Regions from separate parts of the Homo sapiens genome. Here region 1 is reported to be linked to region 2. Evidence: microRNA targets listed by miRTarBase, many of them from high-throughput screens and not tested one by one. Region 2 holds a microRNA gene; the other region holds the end of a gene's coding sequence.
What was found. The annotated mature microRNA hsa-miR-4716-5p reads UCCAUGUUUCCUUCCCCCUUCU and lies in region 2 at 1,289-1,310, opposite strand. An mRNA with a match to its seed (bases 2 to 7 or 8) in the 3' UTR can be bound and repressed. Matches are read on the target gene's strand: a 7mer-m8 pairs with bases 2 to 8, a 7mer-A1 pairs with bases 2 to 7 and ends in A, and an 8mer does both.

Region 1 (3,408 bases), not on the chromosome of region 2:
TAATTAATTTACTTCTTATTGAATGGATTATCTAGATTGAGACAAAAAGCAACCAGTCATTCTCTGTTCTGTGCTTATCCCGTCCTTTCCCTCGTTTCTTCAGTGTGGTGGTTTTTTATATTAGCAGTATTGGTTTAATAGAGCAAAATTTCTTTCTGACCACAAAAACTGCTGAGCTTCAAATAACTAATCTTGAGAAAATACGAATGTGGTTACCTTCATCTTAATATAGTTACTGATATGCTCTTCAAAAACAGTGGTTGGACTTGTTGGAAGTTAGAACTGGACTTGCTAAGGAAGTTAATGTTGCTCTGGGTTAAATGGGAAACATATACTCTGTTGAAAGAAGAAATGTTATAGAAACTAGTAACAGAATAATAAAAGTCCCTTGTATGTCTCCATTTCGGGAGAACTTTTGCTTTTGGAAAATTTAGGGTGTTCCTAGTATGGACTTTGGGTTTCTGCTTTGTCTGCTTGTTAAAGTATCTGTATTCGATAACAGGGACTTCCTTGCACACATGTGAGGGAGATAAATATCTCAGAACTAATGCATTAGCAAGGTGACCACTACAAAGAAAAATGGTACAAACTCTCAAGACATAAAGTTAGCTTTTTTTTTTTTTTTTTTTTTTTTTTTTGAGAGAGTCGCTCTCTGTTGCCCAGGCTGGAGTGTAGTGGTGCAATCTCGACTCACTGCAACCTCTGCCGCCTGGGTTCAAGCAATTCTTCTGCCTCAGCCTCCTGAGTAGCTGGGATTACAGGCATGTACCTCCACACCTGGCTAATTTTTGTATTTTTAGTAGAGACAGGGTTTCACCATGTTGGCCAGGCTGGTCTCGAACTCATGCCCTCAAATGTTCCACCCGCCATGGCCTCCCAAAGTGCTGGGATTACAGGCGTGAGCCACCATGCCCAGCCAAAGTTTTAGCATTTTTTGAGGCACTCAAAAGTTGAGAGCATCAGAGTCACCATGGGTATAGAATTCAGATTGGGATTCGTAATCATGATCTTGGTGATTGGAACTTGGCAGAACAGTGACAGTATTACATTCTGGGAAATTTCACTGAGTATAAAGGAAGACTTAAGTCTTCTGAAGAGATAAGTAATGGCTCATTAAAATCTAAAAGAAATAGGAGTAATATTGTGAAAAGATTTTATGGAAAGACTTCATACCTTTTTTCTGAGTCAATGTTTCTGACCTTCAGATAAGGTCTTTCCAGCCTATACTGTACTTGGCCATTGTAGTAGTTTTCTGGAGAGCCTGTGGGCAGTTACTATTGTAGATGGCTATGGATGGGACATGGACTGCATTTTACCTACTCTGGTCCAATGTTTTCTATGTACCATGACAAACATTACAAGCAATCCTTTTCTAAATAAGCCTGTTTAGAATAGAACTAAGAGCACATGGAAGCTACTGTGAATAACTTAGTTAAAATGTCTTTTTTTTTTTTTTTTTTTTTTGAGACGGAGTCTTGCTCTGTTGCCTAGGCTGGAGTGCAGTGGCGCCATCTCAGCTCACTGCAAGCTCCGCCTCCCGGGTTCACGCCATTCTCCTGCCTCAGCCTCCGGAGTAGCTGGGACTACAGGCACGTGCCACCACGCCTGGCTAATTTTTTGTATTTTTAGTAGAGACGGGGTTTCACCATGTTAGCCAGGATGGTCTCCATCTCCTGACCTCGTGATCCGCCTGCCTCAGCCTCCCAAAGTGCTGGGATTACAAGCGTGAGCCACCGCACCCAGCCAGTCAAAATGTCTTCTTATGGAAATGCAATGGACTGGATGACAAATATAAAACAAACACACACTTGGGAAATTGCTTCAAAATTAAAGGGTGGGCAATTTAAAAGGACAGGAAATTGAGTGATTGATGTGTGTGTACGGTAGCTACGTTTTTATCAGCTTACACTAACTTCCATTAAATAGCCTTCCTCTCTAATACTTAGGTTCTAAACCCTGTAGGGGTAACAGATTTTGCTTAGTAATCAAATAGAACCTCAGATCATGTCACCCACAGAAAGAGGGAAGTAGAAAAATGAGACACTCCCTTATTGATCACACAGAGCTTTCTGTATGTCTGCCAGAAAGTATTCTGGGTTAAATAATTATGTCACAAAATATGAGATAAGTATGCAAATATATGTAAGGATAAGGTGTTCATAAGTGTCTCCCTCATTCAGATAGAAATTTCTAGGTATTTCAGGAATACTATTGCCAGTTGCTTAGGGAATATTCTCCCCTCATTTTATTTTCAGGAATAATATAAATACTGCATACTACTATATAGCAAGTGTATGAAAAAGTGGGTCTGAAGACACTTGTACAAGCCTTAAGTATTACTGTGCATTCTGAGTTTTAGGAGATGGGAAGATAGATTTTTCTGTTTCTGCAGAGGATGGGCTTAGCAAATTAATTATCCTGCTACTTCCCCTTCAAGATTTAATAATGGAATTAGGGAGTGTCCATTATTTTGTATGAATGAAAAAACATTACATTTTAGCCTCCAAATGAAGAAAAACAAGTACCAAGTTTCTCTGTGATTTCATTAAAGCAAACTGAGTTCTCAAATCTTACTCTCTCTAACCCAAAACAAAGCTGGTCTGGTTCTAATGGTGTTTTCCAAAACAGAAAATCCTCCTCGCTACTATTTCATTTAAAAACTGACCCCAAACCACAACCCAATTTACATGCTATCTATCTATCTTTGTTATCCACATATAAAATTCTCACAGCCAGCAAGGCAACTTAAAAGGGTTTCCAAAGAAATAAGCTCAACTCCATATTGACAGAATTATTCCTAGCCGTTATTTTGACATAAATTTCAGTATCTAAATATCGCAAACTCTGTAGTTTCTAATATTTTCCACATAGAAGTTTCTAATATTTTCCACATAGTACCAACAGCTGCAAATCCAAGATATGAAAGATGTGTACTTATTCAAATGTGGTCTTTACCATCTGTCTAAAGTTGGCTGACAGGTGTTATATTCACAAACACCGTGCTTTTGTGTGCGGGTTACAATCTAAATCCTTTCCACGAAGGAAATACGTTGCAAAATTGATGTCTCAAGGCCACTGAAGTGACATTATAACTTCAGTCAAGCATTAAGAAGTTCATCATCTGAGTGTCCAATAGCATCTGGGTTTGAAAGTGGATCCAAGTCTGCAAACAGATTGAACCAGGCTGACATGTCTTGGTTGCCATTGTTGGGGGCTATTAAAAAAGAAAAAAAATACATTAAAGAGATTCAGTTTTGAAATCATGTTTTTGTACCATATTTATGATTTTGAAGTAGGTGCTTCTTTTGGATTAAGAAAAAATTAAGATAACTGACAATAATCTATCAACTATAGTCCCTTTAAGATTTTTTTTTTTTTTTTTTGTTTTCGGTAGAGACTGGGGTTTCC
Region 2 (3,413 bases):
AGTATAAGAAAGTAATGTTTTGTTTTTGGTGTCCATTTGGGGTTCTCTAGTAGTTTGGACAGGTTATTTTAAGAGTAATCCTTTATGAAAATTATAATGTACACATTTTATTTTGGGACAAGGATTCTAATCATTTCAATAATTTATTTTTAAGCACAGTTTACTGGGGTCTCAACAAAAGTCACATATTCAGAAGTAGTATGGCCTCTAGGCTAGGAGTCTAGAGACCTAGGTTTTAGTTCTAGCTCTGTTAATCCTGTTTTACTTTGTGCCAATCATTTCAAAAAAGGATGCTTTACTAATTGCTCTGTAAGGTGCTTTCTAGTCTGCATCGGTTTTGTTGAGACTGCAATAGCAATGTATCCAAGGTCCAAACTAATGATTTGCCATCTGGTTTCATTTAGCAAAGTTAATGTTCGGTCATCAAGTACATATTCAGTAGGAAGTATTCTTTTTCGAAACAGTTTCTACAGTCATTTTTTTTTAACCCTGTATAAAATGAGTTTATTTTGGACTGTTAAAAAAATTCAAAACTTTAAAATTTGTTATTTTTCAACTAATGCAAAAGAATATATTAGAAACATCTGAATAAAAAATGATTCTGGGCTGGGCACGGTGGCTCACACCTTTAATCCCAGAATTTTGGAAGGCCGAGGTGGGCTGATCACCTGAGGTCAGGAGCTCGAGACCAGCCTGCCCAGCATGGTGAAACCCCGTCTTTACTAAAAATACAAAAATTAGCTGGTGTGGTGGCGGCTGCCTGTATTCCCAGCTACTTGGGAGGCTGAGACGGGAGAATCGTTTGAACCTGGGAGGTGGAGGTTGTAGTGAACAGAGATCATGCCATTGCACTCCAGCCTGGGCAACAAAGAGCGAAACTCCATCTAAAAAAAAAAAAAAAGATTCTGTTCTTTTCTGTATTTACTGATGTCCCTAAACATTTTACATTTTTTTTTAAAATTTAGGTTATCTCCCTATTAAAACTATTTACAAGTGACAGTGATGACTCCTGTTACTCAAAATTAAACCAAAATGAACATCAAACTGGGATTTATTGGGGCCCAGAAACAAGAAGATATAATTCATTCATTTGAAAATGATAAAGAGGGACTGAAATAATAGTGAGAAAGCTGCCCTGAGACCAGAGTAACTTTGTTTCTTTGATGTATCATTTACAGTAATAACCCAACGGGGTGCCAAGGGGCTGCCACTCTTTGGCTATGCTTTATTGTCCATTCACACTTTGTCTCCATGTTTCCTTCCCCCTTCCTCCTGTATACATGTATACAGAAGGGGGAAGGAAACATGGAGACAAAGTATGCATATACATATAGAAATTCTGGAGCAGTAACTTACTGATGTATACAACTTATCGAATCTCTCTGAGTTATGCTACTACCCCTAGTGTGTTGGGCATGTTGGCTCAAACTTCCTTAATCAGGAAACTTTGGAATGGGTTTATTGCTAGCTGTCTTTGCTTGGGTTTAATCTCAATATTTCTGAGGTGCAAAGTGCACTAGATTGAGAGTTAATAGATCTGAATTTTAATTCCAGTTTTGTTCCCAATGATCACTGTGACCTCAGGCACATCATTTCACCTTTCGTCGTTCATTCAGTTTATCTTACCTATTCATTAAAAACCAATCTGCCTGCCCCCAGTTGCTTTCTAGTGGTAGTGATGATGGAGGTGGTGAGAGACACAATAAATACATAAGCAAATAGGAGAACTATGAAGGAAGGAAAAGTTAGTGATGTACTAGGGATAGTGTACTTTTGATAGGGCATCTAGGATTTCTCTAGATAAGTGAAAAATGAAGAGGTTTAACTGGATGCTAAGGGGTCTTGCACATTAAAAGGCATGTGTTTCCGTCTTTTCACTACTGTGTTCTAGGAAGGCCCACCAATGCCTCTAACCTGTAAATAAATGCAAATCTATTTAAATCAAGTGATACATCAATTTTATGTTGCTTGATTTGGAAGTAATCCGCAAAGAAGCAATAGCTAAACATTTTAGTGTTGTTTGGGGAGTAGCTGCTGAACAATAAAGACCAAAACCATAACTAAAAAACAAACAAACAAACAAAAAAACGCAGCCCGAGACAGATCAGAAACTAGGTGTATGTAGGGCGCCAGGTTATGACACTGTTCTCTGACATCCACAGGGCGCAAAAAGAAAACCTCACTAGTCAGCTTCGCACGTGCTCTGCGCAGGGGCTCCTGCGAGGCCCTAGTCCCTCCCTGGGAGCTAAGAGCAGGACGGAGGCTGTACCTGACTGCTGCTTGGAGGGAACCCTGGCTGAGTCCAGGGAGGAGGAGCCAGAGGAGGGGCCGATTGGAAGCAGCCACCTCAGCGAAGCTGCAGGATTTCCGCAGGGCGGGAGCTGTTTATCTCCCGGAAGAAAACGGCTCCTGTCACAGAAGTCTCGTGATTGCTCTGGGAGCTTTGCTTAGACACTTGAAACTACAGGAGAAAGAAGGATCTAGCGAAATATGGCTACAGAGAGCCCTGCTACGCGTCGGGTCCAGGTGGCAGAACATCCTAGGTGGGGGAGAGGAGACGCCGGGCTTTGGGATCTGCTGGGTTGGCTACGTGTAGATCGGGTCCACAGCACTTGGCTCCTCCCTTGGGGCGCTGCTTTTGGTCCCGGGGAGCAAGTGGAACCCTTGGGATTCTATAAGGACACGTGGCTGGGCTTGCAAAAAAGATCACGCCGCAAACACATTCTACCTTGACTACTACGAAGGGTTGTATGTTTTTTTCTTCATCCATGCAGATTCTTCTTTTCCTTTTCTTGTTGTAATTAGTGTACTCTTTCTACTGGGCTTCAGCAGAAATGCCCATATCCACACTGAACTCCTCTCTTTGTCTCGCATGCCAGTTGATACTGCTTTTTAAAAGTCTTCTTTCTAAATATTAATTGAAAACAAACACAAAAACCTTCTTGGTGTCTGCATCCTCTTTAAAACAAAACAAAACAAAAACACGAGAATCTCTGAACTGTCACTTAGGGAATTAATTTGCTGGCAGTCCCTAGCTACACAGTAACTAATAGTTTAGTGATGTCTCGGGGAGGATCTTTTCAGTTACAGGTACTTTGTAGAAATACTTCGTTCTGACTAATGGGGCTGAGGTCTCATAAAATGAAGTCTGTCACCTGCTACATTAGCGAAGGGCTTTCCTGACTCTCTGCTTTTGCTGTTTTTCTTTTCTTTTCTTTCTTCCTTCCTTTCTTTTTTCTTTTTCTTTTTCTTTTTTTTTTTTTTTTTGAGACGGAGTTTTGCTCTTGTTGCCCAGGCTGGAGTGCAGTGGCGCCATCTTGGCTCACCGCAACCTCCGCCTCCCAGGTTCAAGCGATTCTCCTGTCTCAGCCTCCTGAGTAGGTGGGATTACAGGCAGGCGTCACCACACCCGG

Region 1: the mRNA of ICA1L is a reported target of hsa-miR-4716-5p. Seed matches in the 3' UTR shown: 7mer-m8 at 1,646-1,652 and 7mer-m8 at 817-823.

Annotation. Positions count from the first base shown.
Region 1 is chr2:202,776,435-202,779,842 of GRCh38, forward strand. It overlaps ICA1L (islet cell autoantigen 1 like), which reads right to left. Exons shown (of 13, transcript NM_001288622.3): 13 at 1-3,214. The coding sequence ends at 3,099. Among named protein-coding and RNA genes, the nearest start is that of ICA1L, 94 kb to the right of the region's middle.
Region 2 is chr15:49,167,833-49,171,245 of GRCh38, forward strand. It overlaps MIR4716 (microRNA 4716), which reads right to left and starts at 1,321; the gene lies at 1,238-1,321. GALK2 (galactokinase 2) reads left to right here and starts at 2,415. Exons shown (of 10, transcript NM_002044.4): 1 at 2,415-2,543. The coding sequence starts at 2,491. RefSeq lists enhancers at 1,827-2,731, 2,363-2,602.